Homo sapiens: one gene and its partner. The protein of the gene in region 1 interacts with the protein of each later gene in a pairwise test. Each region holds a gene or a part of one and is shown on either strand. Other genes may lie near its edges.

Region 1 (3,753 bases):
CTGAAATTATCGTGTTTATTTCCTTGATTTTTGTCTGTCTTCCTCCACCAAAATGTAAGCGCCATAAGTACAGGTACCTTTTCAGTCTTGTTCACTGAATCCCCATTACACAGAACAGTATCAGCACACAGCAGGCACTTGATAAAAGTATTGAATAAATGAATAAGAATAATAATAAGCTCAAACAATAATGTAAACCAGAAGAAAAAAAGAAGGCGGACTATACACCGAAGCTAGCAAGGAAGAGTGGAATTTAGAGAATGGAAATTTCACCATGGCTCTAGTCCCAGAGAAACTGGTACCTCTTAAACTGCAAAGGTAACCATTTAAGAAGTGAGCAGTCTGTATCCCATGATTAAGCAAGAGGACACTATGCCTTTCACACTACAATTACCACTGTCAGCAAGGTTTTATTTTAAGGGAGCCCTGACTACAAGGCTACCCCAGCCACAAATCTACTGCTCTATATCTTGCCATCAGGCATCACTGGTCCACTTCCAGTAATAATTTGTCAGCTACAGCAGGTTCAGACATGCCGTCTTCTCCATTTATACCACAGAGAACCACTGACCCTTGTGCAAATGAGCCTCTTTGCAAACCCCGTAGACTCATGGTCCTATCTGCTCCTTACCCGTGCTCTGCCAGACATGTCACTGAAAAGAGTGGTAAAAGTAACACAGAACAGATCCTGCTTTTTTTTTGCAGAACCTAGTGTTTCTTTGCCCATCAGTTCCGCCAAAGACGCAAACTTCTTGTAAAAGCGGTAAAGGGGAAGATTTCTTATTCAGATGCGTACTAGCTGCAAGTTCTTGGCAAGCCAGTTACCATCCCCACACCTGTTTCGTCCTCTGTAAAAGAGGGATGATCACGGTATCCGTCTCAAAGGAATGTTGTAAGAATTCAATGAGCTAATGCATGTAGGGCAATTAACGTAGTGCAGAACACGCAGAAAGCAACAAATAATGGGGACTGCTTTTCTTATTAAGAGGATAATGATGATGACGATTTTTAGCAGTAGAGTATGAATTCCTGGAGGGCAGCGACAGTGCTTGGTTCCCCGTAGGTTTCAAATGAAACTGAAAAATATAGAAAAGGGGACAACGGCTTCCTCATTTCCCTGTCCCTAGACCTCTCCCCGTCAAATCAATCTCGAGATGGCTGCCATTTGCCTAAACTGGGGGTAGGGAGCTTGGATCGTAACCAGAATAGAATCAAAGGGTGGGAACCATCTAGCAGCTCCAGGGGCAATCGATTACTTTATTATCCTCAAGTTTATGCCCCAGAGTGGCAAAGGCGAAGTAAGCAGCGCTCCTAGGGCCTTGGTTGTGGAAACAGGGGCTCATAAATGGCCAATGCACACCCCGGGGAAGCCTCCCTCTCCAGCACCGTGGGAGGGAGAAGAAAAACGGCCCAAACAATTTGATCACCACGATGGGGTTCTCCGGCTCTGGCCCGAGTTTTATTCACCAGGGACGGCCCCCTGCCCTCTCCCCAGCGCCCCATGCCCACCTCCTCCAGCTCCTCCGATTTAAGACTCCAAACCGAGGGCCCTCCAGGCGGGGCCAGCATCGGAGCATCACCTCAGCGCCCGGTGCTGGCTGCCCCCGGGGTCCCGCCTCCCAACAGCCGGCGCCTTTCCAGGGGGCTCGAGGCCCGGGAGCCCAGCACAGAGCCCGCCCTCAGCTTCTCAGGGCGCCAATTTCGCCTCGCCAGACCACCTCTCAGCCCGGACCCGTCAAGGCTCAAGCCCCCTCCTCATGCACACACCTGATCCCCCACGGCCCCTTCAGCTCCTCTCCCCTCGCCACGGGCCTTGTCAGGAAGCGAATGGCTCAAATGGTACTGACAGAGCGCAGCTCGGTCCGCCGCCGCCTTCTCCTCCTCCTCCCCGCCATATTACGGATCTCAGGCTGCAACGCGGGCTCCTGGCAACCGCCGCCGCTGCCACCCCGACTCCACCTCTCAGGGCCGGCACTTCCGGTGGTTGATTCCCGGGCTGTTAAAACCGTTGGGCCACCAGAACACTACCATCCCCGAGGTGCATTGCGCGCCCGCGATGGAGGACGTAATGCTTACGGCCAGCACGCTGCACGCCGGGAAACGTAGTCTTCCTTGCAAGCTAGAGACTAGAATTTATTAATAAATTTACTTATTTAGTAGAATAGGAACACCCCTCAGGGTCTGAAGCCCCCTGAAGTGTTCCTTGAAGTTGCCATTTTTTTCTTATCTGTATAAAGATAACCCCTTTCTATGCAGCCGTTAGAAAACATGTAACATTCACCAAAATATTTTCTTGTAGGTAAAAACTTGCTGAACCCACCGGGCGTGATGGCTTACGCCTATAATTCCAACATTTTGGAAGCCGAGGCGGAAGGATCGCTTGAGCCCAGGAGTTCGAGATCAGCCTGGGCAACAAAGGGAGACGGCATCTCTACAAAAATTTTAAACGTTAGCCGGGTGGGGTGGCGCGAGCCTGTGATCCCAGCTACTCGGGAGGCTGAGGTCGGAAGATCGCTTGAGCCCAGGAGGTCGACGTTGCAGTGAGCCATGATTGCACCACTGCATTCCAACCTGGGCGATAGAGTGAGACTGTCTGAAAGAAAAAAAAAAAAAGGCTGAATCCTAGATGCCAACTGGAAGGCTTAAGACATCTATCCCCTTTTGCAAATCAGTGGGAAAATGCACTAAAGGAAAAAAAGGTAACAGAAAAATCCCTGAATATTTTTGCAAAGTTCTCTACATAAAAATGTTACCAGCCCTCCAAAATATGTCCAGGGGCCCCTTTTCACTCCCTAACTCGGCTTCATGGTCTATCTCTCTTACCCTCCTTCCAGTGCCTGTTTTTGCATATGTAAAATGGGGGTTTTAAAAGTGCCTATCACAAGGGTGGTTGTGAGGCACAGTTGAGGTAACTCCTGTACAGTGCCTGGTACAAAAGCCCTTAGCAGAAGTAAGATTAGGGGGAGGAGGAGTGAAAATGTCACAAATCACTGGGGAGGCCTTTATGTCAGTCCCCACCCTGCCATTAACTGCTTAATTCACCTATCCTCAGTTTCCGCATCTATGAAATAAGGGAATCCTTAAAACCCCTTCCAGTTTTATAATCCGATTGTGCCTTCTTTGCTAGGCTCTTCCAGTCCCCCAGAATCTGGAAAATAAAGTCGATTGAAATCAGTCTCCTGATAGTAACTGTTAGGCTGTATTGAGAATGAGATAAGCATATAAAGTGTTTGCTCGTCAAGTACCTGGGACATGGTAAGTGCTCTGTAAACGTTAGGTGTACTTGCTAACTTTTATTTCCTCCCACAAGAATGTGAATCCCATAAGAGCAAAAACCCTGTAGGTCCTGTTCAACTGTGTCCGGAGCACCTGGACCGGTATTTGGCACATCTTGAATTGAACTGAACTGAACTGAATTGAATTGAATTGAATTGATAGTCTAAGCATCCTGCCTCTCCAGGTTCCCTGGAATTCAGTTTCCTCAAGGGCAGATAAAGGAGTCACTAAAATCCCTTCCAGTCCTACAGCTTTAGGATGGTTCTTATCCCTCCTTTTCTCGCCTAGGAGTCTGAACGCCCAGGTTGAAGTTCAGACCTCGGAAAACCCTAACCCACCTTAGATTTGGAACGTGAGCCTGGGGCCTGGGGCCTGGGCCCTCCCCCGTTGCCATGGAGCGGCTCCGCCCACTGGCGCTGCGAATCCCGATCCCTGATTGGCTGGGCGGCCGACTCCCTCTCTGGATGTGTCTGCTGC
Region 2 (3,753 bases), on another chromosome or scaffold:
CCAGGCCCAAGCAATCCTCCCACCTCAGCCCCCCAAGTAGCTGGGACCACAGGCATGTACCACCATGCCCAGCTAATTTTGTTTATTTGTAGAGACAAGGCCTCACTATGTTGTCCAGGCTCATCTCAAACTCCTGGGCTCAAGCAATCCTCCCTCAGCCTCCTAAAGTGTTGGGATAACAGGCATGAGCCACTGTGCCTGGCTGACCTTGTCTGTTTTGTTCACTTATATTCCTGGTGCATAAAACAGGGCCTATCTCATACAAGTCTCTCAAAAAATATTTCTTGAAGATTGGATAAAGTTTCCTCTTGGAACTGTAACCATATCTGTGTCCATATCAATTCATTTGAGTAATACAAACTTGCATAATTTTGGTGTCCAGGAGCAGTGACTCAGGGCACCAGCATCTCTGTCACAATTTTCCTGAGTAATCAAATTACCCTGATAAATAGTTTCTACCACCCGTTACCACAAACGATATCAAATGCTTTTATAGAGTTTTAATATACTGTAGGGATATTTATTCATTAAACAATTATTGAATATTATTTCCAATCACTCTTTTATTTATTTATTTATATTTTTTTCTGAGATAGTCTTACTCTGTTGCCCAGGCTGGAGTGCAGTGGCGCAATCTTGGCTCACTGCAACCTCTTCCTCCCAGGTTCCAGCGATTCTCATGTCAGCCTCCTGAGTAGCTGGGATTACAAAGTGTGTGCCAACATTCCCAGCTAATTTCTGTATTTTTTGTGGAGATGGGGTTTCACCATGTTGACCAGGCTGGTCTCGAACTTTTGGCCTCAAGTGATCCACCCACCTCAGCCTCCCAAAGTTCTGGGATTACAGGCATGAGCCACCGTGCCTGGCCCCAGGCACTGTTTTAGAACCTGGGTATAAAAAGACTAATAAGACATATTGCTTTTTTTTTTTTTTTGAGACGAAGTCTCACCCTACTGCCCAGGCTGGAGTGCAGTGGTGTCATCATGGTTCACTGCAGCCTCAACCTCCTGGGCTCAAGTGATCCTCCCATCTCAGCCTCCCAAGTAGCTGGGACCACAGGTGTGTGCCACCATGCCCAATTAATTTTTATTTATTTACTTATTTATAGAGATGGGTTCTCCATATGTTGCCCAGGCTGGTCTTAAACTCCTGGGCTCAAGTGATCTTTCTGCCTCAGCCTCCCAAAGTGCTGGGATTACAGGTGTGAGCCACTCTGCCTGGGCAAGACACATTCCTTGACCACAAAGAAATTATACTCTATTAGGGGAAATAGACATAATCAAATAATTATCATATAATAATTATTAATATAATTAACTGTAATAATAGAGATATGCAAAAGGTATGATGCAGACACGGAAGGGACATCTGATCACATTGGGGGAGACCAGAAAAGACCTCATTTGTTGTTATAATCAGTAAGAGGTAGACAGGTAAAGGGAAGTTTGATGATAGTGGAGGAGGCCACTTAAGAGCACAATGTGAATGAATGCACAGAGAAATAAAACGGTCTAAGAAGTTGACTAAACTGTAGAGTGAGGAAGGGGCTAGATTACAGAAGGATTTGTGGGTCATGCTTAGGAGTTTGGACTTTGTACTATGTGTAGATGATAAGATACCATTGAAGGGTTTTTAATAAGGGAGCAGCATTGTTATAACTGCTTTCAAAAGAGTGATCTGGCTCTACAGTCTGGAAGATGGTTTGAGGAGGGGCATAACTGGAGGCCAGGAGAACAGGTATGAGACGTGTAATGAATAGGTGGAAGATATGGGGCTGAATCACCAGAGCAGTGGTGGTAGAAATAAGGATAGGAGAGGAGAAATTTGGCAAGTATGTGGGAGATTAAATTGGCTGGATCTATTGATTAGTTTTGGGATTAAGGGAGAAGAAGGCCTCTAGGATGCTTTCTCGTTTAGTTCTGAGTGACTGCATGAATGGTATTTTCACCCCCCTTCCAAAGAAGAGAGAAGTGGAGGGGCAGATTTTGTCAGGAGGTATAATGAATTCTGTTATTGACAAGTTCAGATGCTCGACTGTGGAGACATTTTTATAGTGATTCCTGCTGTTTTTGCTGCAACACATAGCCATGAGATTGTCTGTGTTACTACGAGGTGAACTAAAGTTACATTGGGATTCTGGAAGTAACCCACTTAATAATATTGCACAACGTCCAGACTAAAGAGACTAGTTGAGATTTCACCAGCAATGAGGGGTGGTACTGTGTCTATTACAGTCTTTTAAATTAGCCACTTGCTTATGTGAGATTTGATTAGTTAAAACTAGTGGTGTAGAATTATGTAGCCAATATATGGCTATCTGATCACTTTCTAAAACAAATTTATGTCATGGTTTTGAATAAATTAAATTATCTGTGCCTCAGTTTCTTTATTTGTAAAAAGGGAGATGATACTAATTGCCATCTATCACAAAAAGTCTTGGAAGATTATTCAGGTAGCACAATTAATTACATGTTAATAATTTTGATTACAGTGAAAGAAATTATTGTTTTAGTCGTTCTTTGCTTTCTCGATGTCACTCCTTTGGAAATAATTCCTGGTCCCATGGTGGCAACAGTTCCCAAAGGGACTGAAAGAATGTCATCTTGGTAATTTATGAAAACTGATTGTAACAGTTATTTTTCTGATTGAACATGTGAAATATATTCTGTTGAAAGTATTTTATGACTGCAGTGTGGCAAAATCTGCAAATGACAACGTCCTGCAGTCTGTCAGAGCAAGATTTTAAAAATAAAGCACTGAATTTAAACCCAACATTGGTTACCACCTGTTACTGAGAAGTCTTTCAGAATTAAATGTCTATATTTAGAGAAAGTAATACTTGGCACTGGTTTAAGATAACTAGGTTCTAAAATTTTGTTATGTTTATTTTTAGGTGATTGCTCATGCTTTTCACCAAATGTAAAAACGTAGTAAACTCTTTGTGGGGCTCTTGAGGGGAATTGTAGTAATTGTAGAGCATTAGCTACTTAACCATAAACAAACTTGAAACTATTTTTTTTCTGTTAAAAACAGAAACAATTTCTTGAAAACTACTTTTTAAAAATGGATATAATTTACATGATTTATATCCCCAAATCCACATCTTGCCTTAAGAATTCTATTAAGTATCATATATTCTAATTCCTTTGCAGCAGCTGTTTTAAGCAGTTGTCTAGTATCATCTGTCTTCTGTTGAGATCAGTAGTCTATAGATAGAAGAATCCCTAGAGTTTGAAATAAGTTCCCTTGTAGGGGGAAAAGTGTATACTACATTTTTCACCCTTTAATCTCTCACTGATAATACTGAATTTATTGTGTTCTTGGTGACCTTATGCCTAATATGGGGTACAGAAATGTTTTAATAATAAAATTGATTGAAAATGCTGATTTTCTTTTGTATCAGTTTCTTTAATTTGTTTTTTGGAGACGGAGTCTCACTCTGTTGCCCAGGCTGGAGTGCAGTGGCGCAATCTTGGCTCACTGCAACCTCCGCCTCCCAGGCTCAAGCAGTACCCCGCAATATCAGCCTCCCAAGTAGCTGTGACTAAAGGCATACATCACCACACCCAGCCAATTTTTATATTTTTTGTAGAGATGGAGTTTCACCATGTCGTCCAGGCTGGTCTCAAACTCCTGGGCTTAAGGGATCCAACCACCTTGGCCTCCCCAAGTGCTGTGATTATAGGCATGAGCCACAGTGCCTGGCCTTGTATCAGTTTCTAATAGTCCAGCGGGCCCAGTGACTTTGTTAGC

The links.
Region 2: the proteins of CCP110 (region 1) and KIF24 interact in binary tests that used the Homo sapiens proteins (3 or more experiments, as listed by UniProt).

The regions. Positions count from the first base shown.
Region 1 is NC_000016.10:19,522,103-19,525,855, reverse strand, and holds the start of CCP110 (centriolar coiled-coil protein of 110 kDa), read right to left. Parts: upstream 1,915-3,753; 5' UTR 1,768-1,914; intron 1,077-1,767; exon of another isoform or gene 1-1,076.
Region 2 is NC_000009.12:34,322,526-34,326,278, reverse strand, and holds part of KIF24 (kinesin-like protein KIF24), read left to right. Parts: intron 1-3,753. UniProt on the Homo sapiens protein: Microtubule-dependent motor protein that acts as a negative regulator of ciliogenesis by mediating recruitment of CCP110 to mother centriole in cycling cells, leading to restrict nucleation of cilia at centrioles.